Regions from separate parts of the Homo sapiens genome. Here regions 2 and 3 are each linked to region 1. The links come from fine-mapping of genetic effects on gene expression. A gene starts in region 1. Each other region holds a variant in brackets. All regions are shown on one strand. Distances are from middle to middle.

Region 1 (10,650 bases):
CCAGGTGCCGAGGCGAGAGACCGAGGGCACGAGCTGTTCCAGTATAATAAAGAAAATATAGAAAATAAGAATAGTTATACTAGATCTAGATCATAGATATGATTATATATGAATATCATTAATCATTAGTTTGTAGCAATTACCCTTTATTCCAATGTTATAATAATCCTCGCTCTACAATCATAACCTAGGAAAAACCAGGCCATACAGAGATAGGAGCTGAAGGGGCACGGTGAGAAGTGACTAGAAGACGAGAGTGCGAGCCTTCTGTCACACCCAGACATGGCCACTAGAGGGCTCCCTGGTCTAGCGGTAATGCCGGCGTCTGGGAAGGCACCTGTTACTTAGCGGACCTTGGTCTAGCGGTAGCGTCAGTGCCTAGAAAAGGCACCCGTTACTTAGTGGGCCAGGAAAGGGAGTCTCTCTTTCCCCGGGGGAGTTAGAGAAGACTCTGCTCCACCGTCTCTTGTGGAAGGCCTGACATCAGTCAGGCCCGCCCGCAGTTATCCGGAGGCCTAACCGGCTCCCTGTGATGCTGTGCTTCAGCGGTCACGCTCCTGTTTCACTTTCATGTTCCACTCTGTACACCTGGCTCCGCCCTCTAGATAGCAGTAGCAGAATTAGTAAAAGTACTAAAAGTCTCTGAAATGCAGAAATAATGGCATAAGCTGTCTCCTCTCTCTCTCCACCAGGGCTGCCAAACAGGGAGGGGCCCCCTGTCCGGTGGAAACGTGACTCATGTGACCTTATCAATCATTAGAGATGACTCACACTCCTTACCCTGCCCCTTTTGCCTTGTATCCAATAAATATCAGCACAGCCAGGCATTCGGGGCCACTGCTGGTCTCCGCATCTTGGTGGTAGTGGTCCCCCGGGCCCAGTTGTCTTTTCTTCTATTTCTCTGTCTTGTGTCTTTATTTCTACGATCTCTCGTCTCCGCACAACGGGAGAAAGACCCACAGACCCTGTAGGGCTGGCCCCTACACTGAATGTCTGTTTATTTATATGCATAATAATCAACTCACATGTTCCAACTGAACAAACCAAATATTTCTATCCAATTTTCAATAAAAATATAAAAATCTACATATTTCATGTGTTTATGTTTGTTATGTCTCTCACAGCCTGCAACAAATTTAATTTAGCTATCCTCTGAACTACAAGCTTCCCTTTGTTGTAACGAACACTTTTCTTTTACTTAAGTATCGTTATTCCAGAGTTAATATAGTATGCATTCAAATTACTTCTTATTTAGTATTATTTTACCTAGTACCATTATATATTTAATTTTTTCTCATGAAGCCAGGCACAGTGGTTTGTGCCTGTAGTCCCAGCTACTCGGGAGGCTGAAGTGAGAGGATCCCTTGAGCCCAGGAGTTTAAGGTCGCAGTGAGCTATGATGGCACCGCTGCATTCCAGTCTGGGCGACAAAGCAATACCTCATTTCAAGAAACAAAATGGAATCTTTTCCTTATAAGAATCTTAAAGAAGGTGTACATTATCTTGGCTAACTTTCTATAGGATTAAGTGGAAGTTATTGAGACTTGGTCTACAGTCTTCTTTTTTTCATGAGTCAAAAAGCATCTCTCACTTTAGTTACACCTGTATTAGGAGAGTTATGATCAATTACAGCAGTTGTAGTTTCTGAGAACTTGGATAAATACAAACCTGAATTACACAGAATTTATGTAAATCCAGATATTCAAAAATGAGAAATAATGTAATATATGACCAAAGTAATATCAAGACAACATACAATTAAATCACTCAACAATTACTGGGAATATGTATCAAGGCAAGAATTGTAAAATTCTACCTGGTACTTCTGAAATGAACAAGGCAATGAGAAATAACAGTTTATCTTGTCTATTACTGAGTATCAATGAAAGCAATAAGGTGAACGGAAAAGTCCATGCAAACTCCATTTTCAGAATAACGAGGAGACAGATAGAATTCACAGATCCACATGTTTCTCACTGGCTGACAAAACTGTGTTAAGTCAGGGTGAAGCATAGCGGAGGAACAGGGAGGAAGTGCAGAGTGAGAAAACATAAAGAAGTCAGGAAGTGCCAGAAGAGTAATTTCCTGTGAGTAAAGCCTCATACTCGGTGATTTATCGATAGAGTTTGAATACAAGAGCTGTGAGGTCTGGGCAGTTGGAGTGGAGGCTGAGCAGGAGATAAATGTGGTAGAGGCGGTGTGGTTGGGAGATCCTTGAAAACAGAGAAATGCCCTAGTATGGCAGAGTACAGAAATACTACAAAAACTCACTTGTAGAAAGAACATTCTGCATATAATCAGGCATGGAACGGTCCCATGCATTCCATAATAATTAAGAAAAAGATATTGGCAGAGCATTGCTTAAAGGCACTGCAAGAAAATAGGTGAGAAGACCAGTAAGTTTTATTTATTTATTTTATTATTTTATTATTTGTTTTCGAGATGAAGAACAATCAAAGGAAAATGATGGACGGAAATTAACAATCATTCTTGGGCGGGGGGAAAAACTCCACCCACAATTCCTAAGTAAAAAGGGTTACACACATTCTCGGCATAATAAGTCTCTCTCAGGCCAAATGTGTTCATGTGAACACTATGAAGGCATTCCAGCTGAGGTCAGGAAAATACCAAGTATGACCTTCCCTATTTAAGTTAAAATATTGGAAGCTTATTCCAAAATATTGGAATAAATTTGAAATACAGTGATTGAATGGAAGGACATTAAATTATAACTCATTAGACATGTTATTTTACTCTATAGACAAACACAACAAATCACCTGAAATAAGCTATAAAAGATAAACCAGTAAGTTAGAGAAATAATCTTTTTTTTTTTTTGAGATGGAGTCTCCCTCTGTTGCTTAGGCCAGAGTGCAGTGGCGCAGTCTTGGCTCACTGCAACCTCTGCTTCCTGAGTTCTAGTGAGTCTCCTCCTCAGCCTCCCAAGTAGCTGGGATTACAGGCATGTGCCACCATGCCTGGCTAATTTTTTTTGTATTTTTAGTAGAGATGGGGTTTCACCATGTTGGACATGCTGGTCTTGAACTCCTGACCTCAGGTGATCTGCCTGCCTCAGGTTCCCAAGTGCTGGGATTATAGGCTTGAGCCATTGCGCCTGGCCAGAAGAATCTTAATGTACAAAAATGAATAGGTTTTTAATACAACAGACTATCCCAATTCCTTGAAAGAAGAAAATACACCCATTAAAACAGAAACTATGGTGCCTAGAATTAAACTGCACAAAAAACTACATGACCCATATAATTTTTTTATGTTGAAATAATTTTAAACATGCAAAATTAGCAAAGATTCATATAAATCCTCAACCAGCCTATCCTGATGTTAGCTATATATATAATTGTATTATATGTATAATAGTTGTTATATATAAAACTGTATATATACATTTATTGTATTATAATCATATATATACATTTATTGTATTATATATAATATACAACTGTATATGTAATTGTAATATAATAATTATATACATAATAGTATATGTAATACAAGTATCCAACCAGGAAATTGATGTCAACGTATCTTACCATTACCTAATGTGCAGACCTTATTTGAATTTTGTCAATATTTCTCTTAACGTCCTCTTTCTTCTCCAAGATCGAATCGAGGATCTCACATTGCACTCAGTTGTTATGTCCTTAGATTCCTCCAGGCTGTGACCGTTTCTTATTCTTCCCTTGTCTTTTGTGATTGTGACACTTTTGCTGAGCATGGCCAATTATTTTACAGAATGTTTATCAATTTGGATTTCTTTGATGTTTTCTCACGATTAGGCTGAGGTCATGCATGTTTGTCTTCTGTGTTCAGTCAATATGCCCCATCCTTTTTCAAATATTTCTTCATGTTCTGGCGTCAGAATTTGTTCCAATGTTATCTTATATATTCCTGCCCCAGCCCTCGAAGTAACCATTTCTCCACAGATACTTCAAAATAGTATTTAGAAACCAAGGCCGGGCACAGTGGCTCACGCCTGTAATCCCAGCACTTTGGGAGGCCGAGGCGGGCTGATCTCGAGGTCAAGAGACGGAGACCATCCTGACCAACATGGTGAAACTCCGTCTTTACTAAAAATACAAAAAATTAGCCGAGCGTGGTGGCATGCACCTATAATTCCAGCTACTCGGGAGGCTGAGGCAAGAGAATCGCTTGAACCTGGGAGGCAGAGGTTGCAGTGAGCCGAGATTGCTCCATTACACTCCAGCCTGGGTGACAGACGGAGACTTCATCTCAAAAAAAAAAAAAAGTAATATTGATTAAAAATCAAATTGCATGAGAATGCATAGCAGGATACCAAGCAAATACAACTTTTAAATATTACAGAAAATGATATTTAAAATACAAACCAAATACATAAATCATGCAGGCGGATTAAGACGTTTCTGGATAGTGGTAACAGCTGAGAGTGGCTGGATGAATTCCAGAGAAATTTCATATATTGCTTCAATTTTATTTAAAATATACTATTACCTATGTCTTAGATATTTTATTTTAAATAATGAACAAGGATATTATAAACTCTGCAGAAGTAAGTGTAATCGTGTTTTTTTCCTGCCCACATTAAAGATGGCCCAGATGCTTGCACTGACCCCATTGACTGCCCACAGCCATCATGGCGACCGGAAGTCCTGAGAGCTTACTTCCCTCAGTTCTCAGAAAGCCCACCTCCTCTGCGAGCGTTATTTCAAAAGAAGTTGAGAACCAGAGAAACCGACCTAAGGGGATTCTCCCATTTGGCCCGTCCTACCCTAAAGTCACCACCTGCTGCTTTTCTGGAGCGCTTACCAGGTGAGTTTCAGGAGCCCTAGTGTACAGGAAGGAGAAACGGAGGCTTGTTGGTAGGACACCGCCAGGCTGCTCTGTGTTCTGTTCCTCTTAGTCAGCAAGGAAGGAGTACGACAAAGTGAGAAGTTCATATGAGCGTGTCAGAAGGGGAAATAGGGCCCCTCCCTTGTTAAAAACAAAACCCTCTGGAAGCTCGGCATCCTGTCATAACTTAAATTTATGACTTCAGTGACTTGGCTTGGACAGTCTTAATAATCTCTCTCACACTCAATTTGTTTTAATTTCTGTAATAATAATTTTTATACCAATGTTTATGTTGTTAATACTAATAATTTTACACTGTAACTGTATAACTTTAATTATTAGAAGTGTTAACCTAACTAACAAACATATGAAAGCTTCCTAAGGGAAACAATTTTTTTTTCTTTTTGAGATGGAGTCTCGCTCTGTGGCTAGGCTGGAGTACAGTGGCATGATCTTGGCTCACTGCAACCTCTGCCTCCCAGGTTCAAGCGATTCTCGTGCCTCAGTCTCCCAAGTAGCTGGGACTACAGGCGTGCACCACCACATCCAGCTAATTTTTTATTTTTTAGTAGAGACGGGGTTTCACCATGTTGGCCAGGATGGTCTCCGTCTCTTGACCTCGAGATCAGCCCGCCTTGGCCTCCCAAAGTGTTGGGATTACAGGCGTGAGCCACTGCGCCCAGCCGGAAACAATGTTTATTTGGGAATAGAGCATTGCAATTGGGAATAGACATGCCGTATTAAACTATGTGTATATTCAGGGAGATAAAGGAAGACAGAAATGGGGAGGATTGCATATTGTTTTAACAGAATTTTCCTTGGCTACAAAGATCAGTAACAAGGGTGACATTAGTCCTAGGTTGGACCAGCAGTTGCTGGGCAGCATTCCTTGCAGAAATATATATTTTTTTAAGGTTGTGAAGACCTTTATGTAAGGTTGTGGGTTTTGTAGAGTCTTTTTCATCTTCAGGCATGCAAGGATAAGAGCCCTCTCTTCATGGCCTTCCTGGCTCTATTTGTCAGGGTTATCTTAACATAAGTGACTCCATTTTGTTCTGACAACTTTCAGATTTCCCCTTGTGATCAAGAAGTTTCTCTGAAAGCACTCTCCTGCCTCAGCCTCCCGAGTAGCTGCGACTACAGGTGCCCACCACCACACCCAGCTAATTGTTTTTGTGTTTTTAGTAGAGACGGGGTTTCACTATGTTGGCCAGGCTGGTCTCGAACCCCTGACTTGTGATCTGCCCACTTCGGCCTCCCAAAGTGCTGGGATTACAGGGATGAGCCACCGCACCAGGCCTGCATTTCTTTTTTCAAAGAATTACTGTGGCATTTTTTCCAATGTCATTGTGTTCTGTGGTTCTTATCTAGTCTTCACATTTATTTACATAATGAACTTTCAATGATGGATTTCTACAGAATTTTTGTCACTAAGTGGTTGCCTAGAAGTATATATCCTAAGATTGAACATATTGAAATATGAGCTAACTTTTCTCATTCAATTATTGATTACTTAGTTAGTTTATTTATTATTTGGGGGATGGGATCTTGCAATGCTGCCCAGACCAGACTCAAACTCCTGGGCTCAAACTCCTACCTCAGCCTCCCAAGTAGGTGGGATTACAGGCATGTACTACTTCACCTGGCTCAATTATTTATTATTTATAACTCATTGTACATATATTCAGATAACTTAATCTGTGCATTAAACTCTTCCACTTTGTTGATAGTCATTTCTGTGTTTGCTATGTGGCTACATATGTATGCTATGTGTTTCCTCTATGCTTGAGATAGGATGATGGGGATTCTTCAATGGCTGTGTGAGTTGTTATTCTAGGGCACTTAAGTCAAGAATATGAATTGCTTTGGTCAATTTTTTATATCTTTACTGATACTCTGTTATTCTGTTAATTGCTGAAAGACTATTGAACAGATTTCCCACAAGAGTGGAGGATTATTCTATATCTGTTTATCATTCTACCCGTGTATACTATATACATATTGAAAGTGTGAATATGTATACACAAAATTAAAATTGTTATTCTTATTGAAGTGATCTACTTTATACTTAGTAATGCTGTTTAGGTAAAATATATTTTGTCTAATATTATTGGAGGTGCACCTGCTCCCCATTGATTACATTTTTACACAGATAGTCATCTTGCATTCTTTTATTGGAATCTTAATATAACTTCTTTGGGTTTATCCCCTGTAAGATGGAGGGAAATGCTCTTGAAGCCTAATTTGTCTGACATTCATATTGTTGCTCCAGATTCTTTTTAATAACCATGTATATGGTATATCACTGCCACTGTCATATGAGGGGTGGGGAAGTGGCCCCACTTGGAAACATTTTTGCAGATGAGTATTTAAAATGATAAATGTTGGCCAGGCACGGTGGCTCACACCTGTAATTACAGCACTTTGGGAGGCTGAGGCAGGTGGATCACGTGAGGCCAGGAGTTCGAGACCAGCCTGGCCAAATTGGTGAAACCCCGTCTCTACAAAAATACAAAAATTAGCCAGGCATGGTGATGCATACCTGTAATCCCAGTCACTGCAGCTCCCTGCACCTGTACTCTCACACACCACATTCTCTTAACCAGTCCTATTCTTTTTAGCTCCTATCATGTGTACATATACGTTTTCCTGTACCACAAACATTCTGTATAATCTCTTGTGCTATTATGTTTTATCTGTTTAGATCATGGATGTATGTCCAACCCATTAAATAGTACCAAGAATAAGGAACATGTGCAAAATGTATTTGTGGAATGAATACAAGAAGTGCCATAGAGCAGTGCAGTTTAACAGAAATATAATCCAAGCCCCAAATGTATATTAAATTTTCTAGCAACTGCATTTAAAAAAGCAAAAACAAGCAGATACAGTTAGTTTAAAAATACCTATGTAGTTGTATATGTATACACATATGTGTGTGTGTGTGTGTGTGTGTGTGTGTATATACTGATAAGGCCAGTGCGGTGGCTCACACCTACAATCCTAGCACTTTTGGAGGCTGACACAGGCGGTTCACTTGAGGTCAGGAGTTCTAGACCAGCCTGGCCAACGTGGGGAAACTCTGTCTCTACTAAAAAATACAAAAAAATTAGCCAGGCATGGTGGTGCACACCTATAATCCTAGCTACTCGGAAGGCTGAAGTGGGAGGATTGCTTGAATCCAGGAGGTGGGGGCCGCAGTGAGCTGAGATCACACCACTGCATACTCCAGCCTGGGTGACAGAGCAAGACTCTGTCTCAAAAAAAAAAAATTATATATATTATATATATTCTTACATATGTTTTACTTACATATTTGTGTATATGTATTTTATTTAAATATGCATATATATGTAAACATAACAAAACATATACATACGTTTTACCCAAAATGTCATAATTTAAACTTGTCAGCAATGTGAAAGTTATTAAGATAATATTTATATACTGTTATTTATATTGACTTCAAAACCTGAATGCTTTTTAAATTTATGATACACCTCAATTCAAACTAGCCCTAATTCAATTGCTCAATAACTGCATGACTTTTTCTCCACAAAAGTCATCATGGAGACTTCCCAGCTGCAGAAGAAAGTATGGGGTTTGAGATCAGCCATTGAATGCTCCCTGAGAGCTGATCATTCTTGTCTTAGAGAGGAAGAGGTAAATTAGGAAATAATTTTATTATTTTTTATTAGCACAAAAGGGCAGATGGTTGGGTAGCATGATGAAATAATTCCAGTGATCATCTCTAGTCTTGATTTTTTCTCAGATTTATAAAAGAAATAAAGAGTGATGAAGTTGTTTGAGCAATAAAAGCACACAAAGCAACCAAGCAGCAGGAGGATGGTATGGGTGGCTCTGTGTTCAGGAGATGGCTGGGAAGAGAGGCTAGGGCTGTGCAGACGCTGGGCTCTCCGCCGGTGTCTGCAGAGGAGACTGGCCATGTTGATGCTGGTCCAGACCATGAGGAACACAAACAGGACATGGCGAATCACCATGACATTTATAAATGATCCTTGGGGGAGTTTTATCTGTTTAGATCACGGATGTATGCCAAATCCATTAAATAGTACCAAGAATAAGGAACATGTGCAAAATATATTTGTGGAATGAATAAAATAAGTCCCATAGAGCAGTGCAATTTAACAGAAATATAATCCAAGCCCCAAATGTATATTAAATTATTGTATGTATGGCCTAGTTTGACAACAGTCTTGCAAATATCCAGGACCAGAAATGGTGAAATTGGTATTGGCCTCTACGGTTTCAGTGATGTGAACGTAGATTAGCATGTTGGTGATCCAGAGGAAAATGAAAGAGGGAACAAACCTCAAGGCTGATATGCGGATCACACAATAGTTTACCAAACTGCCCAATATCATAACCAGAGACGTTCACACTACAAACCAGGAGAAAAAGTTGGTGTTTTCACACTGTATAACTTTCTGCAAGATGCTGAAACAAGACTCTATATCATAATGAGACTTTCATCTCACTTAATTCGACCTTTTCTACTTAGCAGAATAATGGTGTAACTTAAATTTTATGATCAATTCCTTCTGCTTATAACTTAACAGAACCCAACCTACAAAATTCTTTAGTATCCATTGGTTAAGCAAGAAATTGTCTGTGATGTTGCTAATACGACATGCTATACCTGAATAAATTCCTCTGAGAAAAGTTGAGGCTCCTATACACAAAATAAGAAAGCAGGCCATGTGGTTACCCCAGGTCTCACCTAACTCCCTGCTGTCTCGAATAACTGTTTGAGTTCTTCAATTAGTTGTCTTTAAACCTAGGTTTATGGCTCAAAACCATATGCAAACTGAAAATCTCATATTGCTCTTAATTTGTATTTCCCCTTACTTTGTATTTCTCCTTTTTAAACTTTGTATGTGTTACTTGTTAAATTTTTTCAGAGGTGCAGCTCCTAACAAAATAATACTGAATCAGCACTTTAAAGGGATAGCAAAAGACTGTAGAACAGACAAAATTGAACTTACTAATGGACTCCAGGGAGACTTAGCCTGAGAGCCACATCCTTCAAATCTCTTTTGTTGCTCAAATGTGCTTTTGACATCGATTCCTAGTCACCAGTCACTCCCCACAACATGGGATGAGACCAGCAAACTGGGAGAGGTCCATGCTGGCATCAGGGGACATCAAATCTTAATTACAGAATGATTGATCAATAATGCTTTTAGAGAAAGTTCTTGATCACAAGGAGAAATCTGAAAGTTGTCAGAACAAAATGGAGCCACTAATGTTAAGATGACCCTGACAAATAAAGCCAGGAAAGCCATGAAGAGGGGGGGTCTTATCCTTGTATGCTTGAAAATGAAAAAGACTCTACAAAACCCACAACCTTGCATAAAGGTCATTGCAACCTTAAACAAAAAATATTTCTGCAAGGAATGCTGCCCAGCAACTGCCTGTCCAACCTCAGACTAATGTCACCTTTGTGCCTGATCCTGTGGCCAAGGAAAATCCTGTCAAAACAATATGCAATCCTCCCCATTTCTGTCTTCCTTTATCTTCCTGAATATATACATAGTTTAATATGGCATATCTATTCCCAATTGCAATGCTCTATTCCCAAATAAACACTGTTTCCTTTAGGAAGCTTTCATATGTTTGTTATTTAGGTTAACACTTGTAATAATTAAAGGATTACAGTTACAATGTAAAATTATTAGTATTAACAACACAAACATTGGTATAAAAATTATTATTACAGAAATTAAAACAACTTGAGTATGGAGAGATTAAGACTGTCCCAGCCAAGTCATTGAAGTCATAAATTTAAGCTATGACTAA
Region 2 (6,119 bases), 55 kb after region 1:
CTGCTTTGGGAAAAATGGAAATGCAGGCGATGTTAGAACACTGGTACACACACTAATTCATTCATCCTCACAAAGCCCTATAGACAGGTACTATTATGACCCCTCAACTGTAACATAGGCTGGAAGGTCACATGACAAGGAAGTAGTGGAGCTGGGATTTGAACCCAGGCAGTCTGGCTTCATACTTGATAAGCTTAATCACAATGCCAAAGTGGTAAATAGCTGTGTGGCATAATTTCAGGTAGTGATAAGTGCTGTGAAGGATAAAGCAAAGAAAGGGGCAGGGATGGCTCTTTAGAGAGACTACTTAGGGATGGCTTTCAGGAAGAGGTGGCATTTGAGCAGGGGCCCGAGGGATTGATGTGACTTGTGATAAAAGAAAAACTTCAGACGAATTAAATTTAAAGAAGTTTAATTGGCTAGGCACTGTGGTTCATGCCTGTAATCCCAGCACTTTGGGAGGCCGAGGAGGGCGGATGGCTTCAAGTCAGGAGCTTGAGACCAGCCTGGTCAACATGGCAAAACCCTGTCTCTACTACAAATACAAAAATTAGCTAGGCATGGTGGTGGGCACCTGTAGTCCCAGCTACTCGGGAGGCTGAGGCACAAGAATTGCTTGAACGCAGAAGGTGGAGGTTGTAGTGAGCTGAGATCGCACCACTGTGCTCCAGCCTGTGCAACAGAGCGAGACTCCATCTCTAAATAAATAAATAAATAGAGTTTAATTGAGCAATGAAGGATCCACGAATCAGGTAGCCTCGGGCCAGAGTAGGCTGAAACTCCAGCACAGCCATGTGGTGGAAGATTTATGGACAGAAAAAGGAAAGTGACATACAGAAAACGTAAGTGAGGTACAGAAACAGCTGGATTGATTACAGCTCGGCGTTTGCTGTACACAGTTCGAACAGTTGGCTACATTTGATTGCCCAAAACTCGGTGATTGGCACAAGCGTAGGCCACCTTCTGTTTACACCTCCACTTGTTATAGTTCACGACGTACAGAAAAACCTTCAGGCCGAACTTAAAATATGTAAGGAGGCAGCTTTAGGCTAAACTTGATTTAACACTGTGAGCTATATATGTGGGGCATATAGAGGGTTAAGGTTTACTAACCTTTAGTTTCCTCTTGCCTTCCTGAAGGGCCAAATACTGTAATACGTGCAGTTCCCTCCAATAGGAACGTACTTCTTCATTCTCTTTTCCTGGCAAACACATTCTTCAAGGTCCAGTTCTGTGAAGATCCTTCTGCCTGTTTTTTAAAATTTATTTTTATTTGTTTGTTTATGGTCACATACGTCTCTTCCTGGTCTGGACTCATCCAATCCATTTGTCACAGTAAAGCTTCTGGGGTAGGGGAGGTGGTTATTCTAATGTACATCCAATCAAGCCACTCTCTGTTTAAAACCTTTTGAAGGCTTCCCATACCTCCCAGGATAAAGACTCACCTCATCTTCTATCTTTAAGGGCTTGCGGATTTCACTGTCCAAATCTCTCCCTCTTTCACACTCTGACCCATCTACACTGGCCCATCTTCTCTTTACCTTATGGGCTGAGCTCTTTTCCACCCCAGGGTTCTGTGTGTTATTTGGTGAATCAATTAATGAATTAATTCAGCTTCCCGTCACTAACCAGATAGCCCACATCTAAGAATCTAATGATAAAACAGGCAAGTGGAGAAGTTTTGGATTTGGTTTGCGCTCAATAGCTGTTGTTTGCCTTCCCAGGATCCCTCCTGCCTCCTTTCCTTTCTCTCTTTCTTTTTTTTTTTTTATTTTTTATTTTAAGAGATGGGCATCTCCGGGCGCAGTGGCTCACGCCTGTAATCCCAGCACTTTGGGAGGCCGAGGTGGGCGAATCATGAGGTCAGGAGATCGAGACCATCCTGGCTAACACGGTGAAACCCCGTCTCTACTAAAAAATAGAAAAAATTAGCCGGGTGTGGTGCCGGCCACCTGTAGTCCCAGCTACTCGGGAGGCTGAGGCAGGAGAATGGCGTGAACCCGGGAGGCAGAGCTTGCAGAGAGCCGAGATCGTGCTGCTGCATTCCAGCCTGGGCGACAGAGCGAGACTCCATCTCAAAAAAAAAAAAGAGATGGGCATCACGGGTGTGACTAGCTGGGGCCAGTATCATGGGAGGTAAAGGCATTTATCAAGACAGTCGTAGGGAAAGAAAGGCAGATTTATTAGACAGATAGTACATTGCAAGAAAGCAATGGGCAGCACAGCAGACGAAGAGCTGTCTGCAAAGGCAGGGGCTGCAGGGAAGTTTCATAGGGTTGTACTGGAGGGGTCTACGTGCTGAACGAGTTACCCTAGTCCTCCCGGCCAAGGCATTTTTTGAGACAGAGTCTCACTCTGTCACCCAGGCTGGAGTGCAGTGGAACAATCATGGCTCACTGCAGCTTCGACCTCCCAGGCTCAGGAGATCCTCCCACCTTAGCCTCTTGAGTAGCTGAGATCACAGACGTGCACCATCATACCAGGCTAATTTTGTTTCTATTTTTGTAGAAACGGGGTCTTCCTATGTTGCCCAGGTTCGTCTTGAACTCCTGGGCTCAAGCGGTCCTCCCACTTTGGCCCCCCAAAGTGCTGGGATTTCAGACATGAGCCACCAAGCCCTGCCAAGGCCTTTTTAGTTCACCCAAAAGCCAGATGACTCCCGATATGTGGGCAAGCCCAACGAAGATCAGCTACTTTATCAAGATTAGCTGCTTTCATTTTTTTTAAATAAGCCTATTTCCGATAATTGTAGGTTTATGATCAGTTGCTTTGCTTTTCAAAGTATAACATGCATACTAGGATCTTGTTAGAATGAGATTCTGATTCTGTAGTTTTGGAATGGGTTTGAGAATCTGCATTTCTTTCTTTTTTCTTTCTTTCTTTTTCTTGAGATGGAGTTTTACTTTGTCGCACAGGCTGGAGTGCAGTGGAGCGATCTCGGCTCACTGCAACCTCCGCCTCCTGGGTTCAAGAGATTCTCCTGCCTCAGCCTCCCGAGTAGCTGGGACTACAGGTGCGCCACCACGCCCAGCTAATTTTTGTATTTTTAGTAGAGGCAGGGTTTCACCATGTTGGCCAGCATGGTCTCGATCTCCTGACCTCAGGTGATCCGCCCACCTCAGCCTCCCAAAGTGCTGGGATTACAGGTGTGAGCCACCGTGCCCAGCCGAGAATCTGCATTTCTAACAAGCTCCTAGGGAATGTTCATGACACTGTTGCATGCACCACACTGAAAAGCAAGGGTCTAGCCAACCCCTCAGGTGACCCAAGACTCATAAGCAATACGTGTTCATTTTTATTATTGTTTTAACTTTTAAAGTCAGGGGTACATGTGCAGGTTTGTTGTATAGGTAAACTTTTATCATGGGGGTTTGTTGTACAGATTATTTTGTCACCCAGGTATTAAGCCTAGTACCCATTAGTTATTTTTCCCGATCCTCTCCCTCCTCCCATCCTCCACCCCCTAGTAGGTCTCCATGTGTGTTGCCCCTCTCTCTGTGTCATTTCTTCTCATCATTTAGCTCCCACTTATAAGTGAGAGCATGCAGTATTTGGTTTTCTGTTCCTGTGTTAGTTCATTAAGGATAATGACCTCCAGCTCCATCCATGTCCCTGCAAAGAACATGATCTAGTTGTTTAATGGCTCTATAGTATTCCATGGTGTATATGTACCATATTTTCTTTATCTAGCTTATGATTATTGATGGGCATTTAGGTTGATTCCAAATACATGTTTATTGTTATATACTTAGGAAGTTTTATAGTTGTTAACACAGCATTTATGTAGCCATGGATAACTGATAACCTCCATAAATCCAACCTGCTGCTTCCTTGAGACTTAATATACGAATGCTGATAGAATGGTATTTTTGGATCAAGATAGGAGGGTGTGATATGGGAACTTCTAGTCCCCCCCTTTCTCAGGAGAGAGCTGTCTTTTGAAGAAATCCATCGCACGAAAAGCAGGCGAGAGAGGGGAAACCTGACATTGTTTGAGCCCCTGCAGTCAGCTGCCATCAAAGCCTTTGACTTCGCATGACTTGAACCACTGAATCATTTTTTTTCTTTTTTTTTTTTTTTGACAGAGTCTCGCTCTGTCA[C/T]CCAGGCTGGAGTGCAGTGGCACGATCTTGGCTCACTGCAACCTGCGCCTCTTGGGTTCAAGCAATTCTCATGCTTCAGCCTCCCAAGTAGCTGGGACTACAGGCACCCGCCACCACATCTGGCTAATTTTTGTATTTTTAGTAGAGACAGGATTTTGCCTTGCTGGCCAGGCTGGTCTTGAACTCCTGGCCTTAAGTGATCCACCTACCTCAGCCTCCCAAAGTGCTGGAATTACAGGTGTGAGCCACCACACCCGGCCTGAATTGTCTTTTATCTCAAGTTCCTTCATTGCTACTCAAAGTGTGCTCCACAACCCAGCACAGCCACATCATCGGAGAGCTTGCTAGAATGTTGGGCCCTATCTTAGACCTACTGAGTCAGACTCTGTATTTTAAGAAGGTGCCCACGTGACTCACGTCCACGCTAAAGTTTGAAAAATGCTGAGCTACTTCAACCTGGACTTTGTCACCTATAATAGAATTAAATCCCCTTCATCAGTTGCGACAACAGAAACCCCAACTCAAACTTCCCTAAATCATTAGGGTATCTTTGATTGGCCAGGTGCAATGGCCCACATCTGTAATTCTAGCACTTTGGGAGGCTGAAGCAGGGGCATCGCTTGAGGCCAGGAGTTTGAGAACAGCCCAAGTAACGTAGCAAGAGACCTCATCTTTACAAAAAGTTAAAAAAAAGAAAAGAAAAGAAAAGAAAAAGAAATTAGCTAGGTGGTAGCACGAGCCTATAGTCCTAGCTACTCAGGAGGCTGAGCTGGAGGATCCCTTGGGCCCAAGAGCTGGAAGGCTGCAGTGAGCTATGTTTGCACCACTGCACTCCAGCCTGGGCCAGAGCGAGACACTGTCTCTAACAAAAAAGGATATATTTTACTTAAGAAGCCCCATGGTAGAGCAGACTCGAGAGACTCAACTGAGCCAAGCAAAGATCCAGATTTTCTTCATCTCAGCTCTGTCATCCTCAGTGTGGACTTCATTATCACACCATACCAAGGTAATCATCAGCAGGTCTAGGCCTGATCATGTCTCTAGGCCTTCTTAGGAGTGATAGAATCTTTATTAGAAGCCTCCTAGGCCGGGCGCAGTGGCTTACGCTTGTGATCCCAGCACTTTAGGAGGCTGAGGCGAGCAGGTCACCTGAGGTCAGGAGTTTGAGACCAGCCTGGCCAACATGGTGAAACCCCGTCTCTACTAAAAATACAAAAATTTGCCAGGTGTGATGGCGCACACCTGTAATCCCAGCTACTCAGGTGACTGAGGTATGAAAATCACTTGAACCTGGGAGGTGGAGGTTGCAGTGAGCCGGGAACGTGCCATTGCATTCCAGCCTGGGTAACAGAGCAAGACTCAAAAAAAAAAAAAAAAAAGCTTCCTAGTTCTGAGCACAGTGGCTCACACCTGTAATCCCAGCACTTTGGGAGGCTGTGGCAGGAGGATTGCTTAAGCCGAGGAGTCCAAGACCAGCCTGAGTAACATAGCAAGACCCTGTTTCTACAAAAATATAAAAATAAAAAAGCCTCCCACCTCAACCTGAGCAGACTCGTTGACCAGGACTGGGTCACAGGCCCATTCTGTGGCCAGGACATTTGGCATGAGTCAGTCATTTGAAGGTAGAATCGACTCATGTCAAGAAGTTGCCACTGGGACGCACTGGTCCAGATGATGGAGGAGGAAGCTTGAGTTGCTATGGAGATGAATTCATTGTGGCTCCTCTATCCATCTGGCCCCAGGAGGCCTTGTCGGTAGAAAGAATGAAGGAACGCTGGACCATCTCAACTGTTCCCTGGATCTGGGACTCCCAACCAACCCCAGAAGCCAAGAACTCATCACGGAAACCAAAATAAGATTGTTTTATTCCAATCCTGAAGAACAATAGTCCAAACAATTCCCCTCCCCTGCTGGAGACTCTCCTGACCCCCAGTGCCCGCCCTCCCTCTCTCTTCAGAAGGCGATGGGGGTCGATGTCTCCAGGTCTTGGAGAAAAACCAAAACCACGCCCCTTGCATT
Region 3 (5,000 bases), 22 kb after region 1:
CTGGAGTCCTCTTCAAAGCAGATTTTGTTGCCAGACGTCCTATGCCTATGTCCATTACCCAGAAAAATTCTTTTAGTTTCACGTGGCTGGGGAGGCCTCACCATCATGGCAGAAGTCAAAGGAGGAGCAAAGGCATGTCTTACATGGTGGCAGGCAAGAGCCACGTGTGGCTTTTGAGCACTTGAAATATGGCTACTTCAAAGGAGGAACTGATTTTCACATTTAACAATTTAAAACTAAATGTAAATAGGCAGGTGTGGCTAGTGGCTGTCATATTGGCCATTGAATATCTTGGCATAAAGGACACTCCATCACTCCTAACCTCAATCTTGATTCCTGCCAGCCATAGGAGGACAGCACCAAGCCTTCAAAAATGAAGAAGAGAAAAGGATCTAGCATAGGACTCTCATGTTCCATATCTGAATAAGGATCCTTGATGGGAAAAGAAAGTGTGTACAATATCCATAATTTTCTTTTTCTGTGAGCATTTTTGTTGCTTTATGCAACCCCTCTCACCATTTGCAGGCAGAAGGGAGAAGAGGAGATAACTGTTCCATGGGTTCTTATAAAACATGCCCAATCTCACTAATGCCCTGCAATCCCAATCATTTTAGGGTCCTATTCTCTCGGGCACCAATTATGGATGAAGGGAGACTACAAATTAGGAATCTCATCCTTTCCCTAAAATTCTTAGCAAGGTTATATAGGTCAACATACTTGTTGACCTATTATGAAACCAATGTTTGTGGCAAATGCTAGATGTTGAGAACTGACTGACGTCTGCTTCCTAGGATGGAAAGAGCAGCATATAGTGGGAAACAGAGAGCCAGTTAAATTTAACATAATGAGATGTAAGAAAGAGTCATGGGAGTCTGAGAGGTGAGATGGAGTCGTAGGGGCCTGAGGAATGACTTCCCTAAGATAAAATATTGAGTCTATGGCTATTAACATAAAATCTTCCTGCACAGCCTATGCTATCATCAGGCACCTACCTTATATTCATAGTAAAAATTCTGTTGTTGTTTTCCAGGGTATACAGGGAGCTACCCTGTGTTTCTGAGACCCTTTGTGACATCTCACATTTTTTCCAAGAAGATGATGAGACAGAGGCAGAGCCATTATTGTTCCGTGCTGTTCCTGAGTGTCAACTATCTGGGGGGGACATTCCCAGGTAAGAAAAGCTATTCCGTTGGAAAACTATTGGACGCTGTGTCTCAATATCACAGAGGAACATGAGAATTAGAGGAATTTGGGTGTTTTTCATCGAACTCAGGGGAGAATGAATGAGCTTATGCAATACTAGCAATGAATCCAGAAATTTTTGAAACAAACCTTAAGCAATGAGGTTTTCTTCCATGGAGGTGTCTAGAGAACCTATACACAAAAAGGCAATGAGCAATGCAATCGAAGACCAGTGGGTTATTGGTTAAGCTGTTACTCAATACATAAAACCAACCTAATTCTCTAGGAAACTGGCTGATGATGAGGCTGAAGGCCACAGTGGGGTCCTGAGGTTTAACACCGGGGAGGGGAGAATGCGTCTATTTGTAGGGTATGCCAATTTCCAAGGGTTGAATATCCCCATCATGGCAGATTTCAAACTACCAACGTGAAGCCCCTGATGAGGGAGTTGAAAGAACACATGCAGAAGTCTGTCATCCTGCTTTCACCACACAGATACAAGAGACATAAATAACCTCAAGGGCATAGACTGCTGAAAAGTGTAGAAAAATGACTGGAAATTGGTATGTTTTAATATGTATTACTTTTGTTTTTAATATGATTTATTTAAATGTTAGCTTGTATCATTTAATTTAGACTAATGGTTGTGTTGAACAACTTGGTTGCAAAAGCCCTGAAAATGGAACCGTCAGCTCTCATGATCTGGGATGCGCTGTCTGCAGTTCA[G/A]CGCTGGGTTCCTCCCACTTTCTAAACCCCTCCTCAGCAGGCAGACTCCAGCATGCACATGCACCAGGAAAGAGAATATAAAATGGCATGTTTACTCTTGCTGCTTTGCCTGTAGCTACCCGAATCCATAGCAAAATGTGTAGCCGCAGACAGCAACCAGTCTTAGGATGTCAGCCCAGGGGTCTCTCCATGCTTGGCTTGCCCACAGAATCCTTCCGAGAAAAGCGCTGTAAAGCCTTTCTCTTCATCCCACTTCTCTAGGTACCTGTTCTTTTTAAACCTAATCCACGTGTCAGTTTCTCTGCTGGTCTCTTTCACGTCGAAATAAACAGATATCTCAAGGAATGGATCAAAGGCAGAGAATTTGATGGAGTTGGTTGCCTTGCTCCAGAAGGTATCACCTGTGTTAGGGCAGGTTTCTCTCCAGAGGCATGACGAACCATTGGCTCACGCTGTATGTCATAGAACCCATATTGGCTAATATTGGAATCACCTGTGAGGCTTTGAAAGCGCCGATGCTTTGGTGCCACCTCCAGACTTCTGATTCAATTGATGTGGGCTGTGACCTGGTATTGGGTGGTTTTTAAAGCTTCCCAGGTGTGGTCAAGTTTGGAATTACCTTGGAATATAAATGCATACATTTTACGCATTGGTGAATTACTGCTTCAGTCTTTGATTCCGACATCGTATGATACCAATCGGAGCAATCAATTTAAGCCAGAGAATCTGGCTGTGTCCACATTGAACGTGGGCATAATACAAAGAGAAGAAGGAGAGATGTCAAGACACATTTGGCTCAAGGGAGTGTGTTATCTCTATTATTTATAAATGTGGATAAAAATATCTTCATTCAAAATGTCTTCTATTTCTTGATAGTCTAGATCCGCCCAGTCTAAGAGAACTTTCTGTGATGACGGGAGTGTTCCATTCTCTGCTACACAGTGTTATAGCCGTGAGTGATATGTAGCTGTTGAGCACTTGAAATATGGATAGTGCAACTGAGAAACTAAAGTTTACCTAAGTTTAATTCATACAAATTTAAATAGCATATCCGGGTAGCGGCTACTCTACGGGACAGTGCAGCTCTAGTTTTCAATAACATCGTCTTCATCTTCATCAACTGATTCTTGATGTTTTTCATCTTTTTGTAACATGGGGATCCCAACCTCCAGTGTATCAGAAGAGCAGGAATCTTCAGAGGGACAAGATTCAGGTAATGGGCTAATAGGGAGAGGAGTGAAGGGCGTGTGGATTGATGGAAATGTTCTGTGATTTTATGTGAAGAAGACAATTTAGAGTCTTTTGTGCAGATCAGGAGTGCTTTCCCTTACCTTTGCCACAGTGCACTGTGCAGTTTAAATGGGGACATGTAAGCCTGTCACTGCTGGGGCATGGAAATGCTCAGGGGAGTCAGTGGGTGGTCCTGGTGGCTGGGGACAGCAGCAGGGCCTAGGAAGGATGCACGCTCTTTCGCCTCTGCATCTTTGGAGTTCGATACTTTTCTGACCTGGACTTTCCTCACCAGCAGAAAGTGTCTTCTGCTATTTCGGACCAGTAGAAATGTAGGTGCATTGGTTCCAGTCCTCAGCAAATGGTGCCTCCCACCAAAGCTGTCCAGCCTGGCTTCCCAGAAAGTCTTATGGAATTTGGTGTATACGTTTAGTCATGACAAGGAACATTCTTGTGCCTTTCTTTGTCTGGATTCAAAGAAGCGAAACTGCATATTCTGGTCACTCTCAGCTCTCATTCGATATCTGTATCCCAACAGCACCTGTGCAATTCAGCCTCCAGGAGTCCTTCAGGCCATGCCTCTTCCAACCCTTTACCTCTTACATGTCTAGTATTTTCTTTTCAGGAGACATTTGCTCAGAAGAGAATCAAATAGTTTCCTCTTATGCTTCTAAAGTCTGTTTTGAGATCGAAGAAGATTATAAAAATCGTCAGTTTCTGGGGCCTGAAGGAAATGTGGATGTTGAGTTGATTGATAAGAGCACAAACAGATACAGGTAAGAATGGAAGATGCTGATGATTTGAAAACCACTCTGATATAAAGGAAGTGTGTAGGCCAGGCGTGGTGGCTCAGGCCTGTAATCTCGGCACTTTGGGAGGTGGAGGAGGGCGGATCACAAGGTCAGGAGTTCGAGACCAGCCTGGCCAACATGACGAAACCCTGTCTCTACTAAAAATACAAAAATTAGTCAGGCGTGGTGGCACCCGCGTGTAGTCCCAGCTAATCAGGAGGCTGAGAAAGGAGAATCTCTTGAACCCAGGGGGCAGAGGTTGCAGTGAGATGAGATCTCGCCACTGCACTGCAGCCTAGGAGACAGAGCGAGACTTTGTCTCAAAATAAATAAATAAATAAAAATATAAATACAAAAGGAAGCGTATCGGTTCCATCCCTTATGATAGCTAAAATTTCATCAATAATATGTTTATTTCATGCACTGTGAAGTTGGTATTTTAATTTCAACATATATAGAATGCAGAGAAATTGGGGCCCAGAGAGGTTAATGAACTCCCCAGCGTTTTCTAATGTAGTGAAAGTCGCAGATGGGTCCTGAACCTTGCCTCACTTCAAATCCCACCTCCCTCTGCACATCGCTGCTTAAATCCAAGTCCTGGGGTTCTCCCGTCATGACATCACTCTGGCTCCTTTCAGCGTTTGGTTCCCCACTGCTGGCTGGTATCTGTGGTCAGCCACAGGCCTCGGCTTCCTGGTAAGGGATGAGGTCACAGTGACGATTGCGTTTGGTTCCTGGAGTCAGCACCTGGCCCTGGACCTGCAGCACCATGAACAGTGGCTGGTGGGCGGCCCCTTGTTTGATGTCACTGCAGAGCCAGAGGAGGCTGTCGCCGAAATCCACCTCCCCCACTTCATCTCCCTCCAAGGTAATGTGGGGTGAGCGGAGGCTGTGGGGGCCGCTGGGGTGCGTGCCGTCTCACTGCTGTTGTGGTTCTCCTGCAGCAGGTGAGGTGGACGTCTCCTGGTTTCTCGTTGCCCATTTTAAGAATGAAGGGATGGTCCTGGAGCATCCAGCCCGGGTGGAGCCTTTCTATGCTGTCCTGGAAAGCCCCAGCTTCTCTCTGATGGG

What was found. PIP is the estimated chance that this variant, and not a neighbour inherited with it, causes the effect.
Region 2: its variant is the best candidate, but not a certain one, in a credible set for the expression of CARD8 in unexposed skin (GTEx, PIP 0.63).
Region 3: its variant is the best candidate, but not a certain one, in a credible set for the expression of CARD8 in whole blood (INTERVAL, PIP 0.65).

The regions. Positions count from the first base shown.
Region 1 is chr19:48,249,951-48,260,600 of GRCh38, reverse strand. CARD8 (caspase recruitment domain family member 8) reads left to right here and starts at 4,689. Exons shown (of 14, transcript NM_001184900.3): 1 at 4,689-4,809. It overlaps CARD8-AS1 (CARD8 antisense RNA 1), which reads right to left and starts at 4,926. Exons shown (of 2, transcript NR_040599.1): 1 at 4,807-4,926; 2 at 2,407-4,250. It also overlaps the pseudogene VN1R97P. RefSeq lists a silencer at 314-494 and enhancers at 467-666, 4,581-4,820.
Region 2 is chr19:48,197,449-48,203,567 of GRCh38, reverse strand. It overlaps ZSWIM9 (zinc finger SWIM-type containing 9), which reads right to left. Exons shown (of 4, transcript NM_199341.4): 4 at 5,948-6,119. It also overlaps a transcript of CARD8 not described here. Among named protein-coding and RNA genes, the nearest start is that of ZSWIM9, 30 kb to the right of the region's middle. The variant C/T (reference allele first, on the strand shown) is at 4,101.
Region 3 is chr19:48,230,574-48,235,573 of GRCh38, reverse strand. CARD8 (caspase recruitment domain family member 8) reads left to right here. Exons shown (of 14, transcript NM_001184900.3): 6 at 1,031-1,171; 7 at 3,081-3,121; 8 at 3,764-3,914; 9 at 4,568-4,797; 10 at 4,874-5,000. Among named protein-coding and RNA genes, the nearest start is that of CARD8-AS1, 23 kb to the left of the region's middle. The variant G/A (reference allele first, on the strand shown) is at 1,909.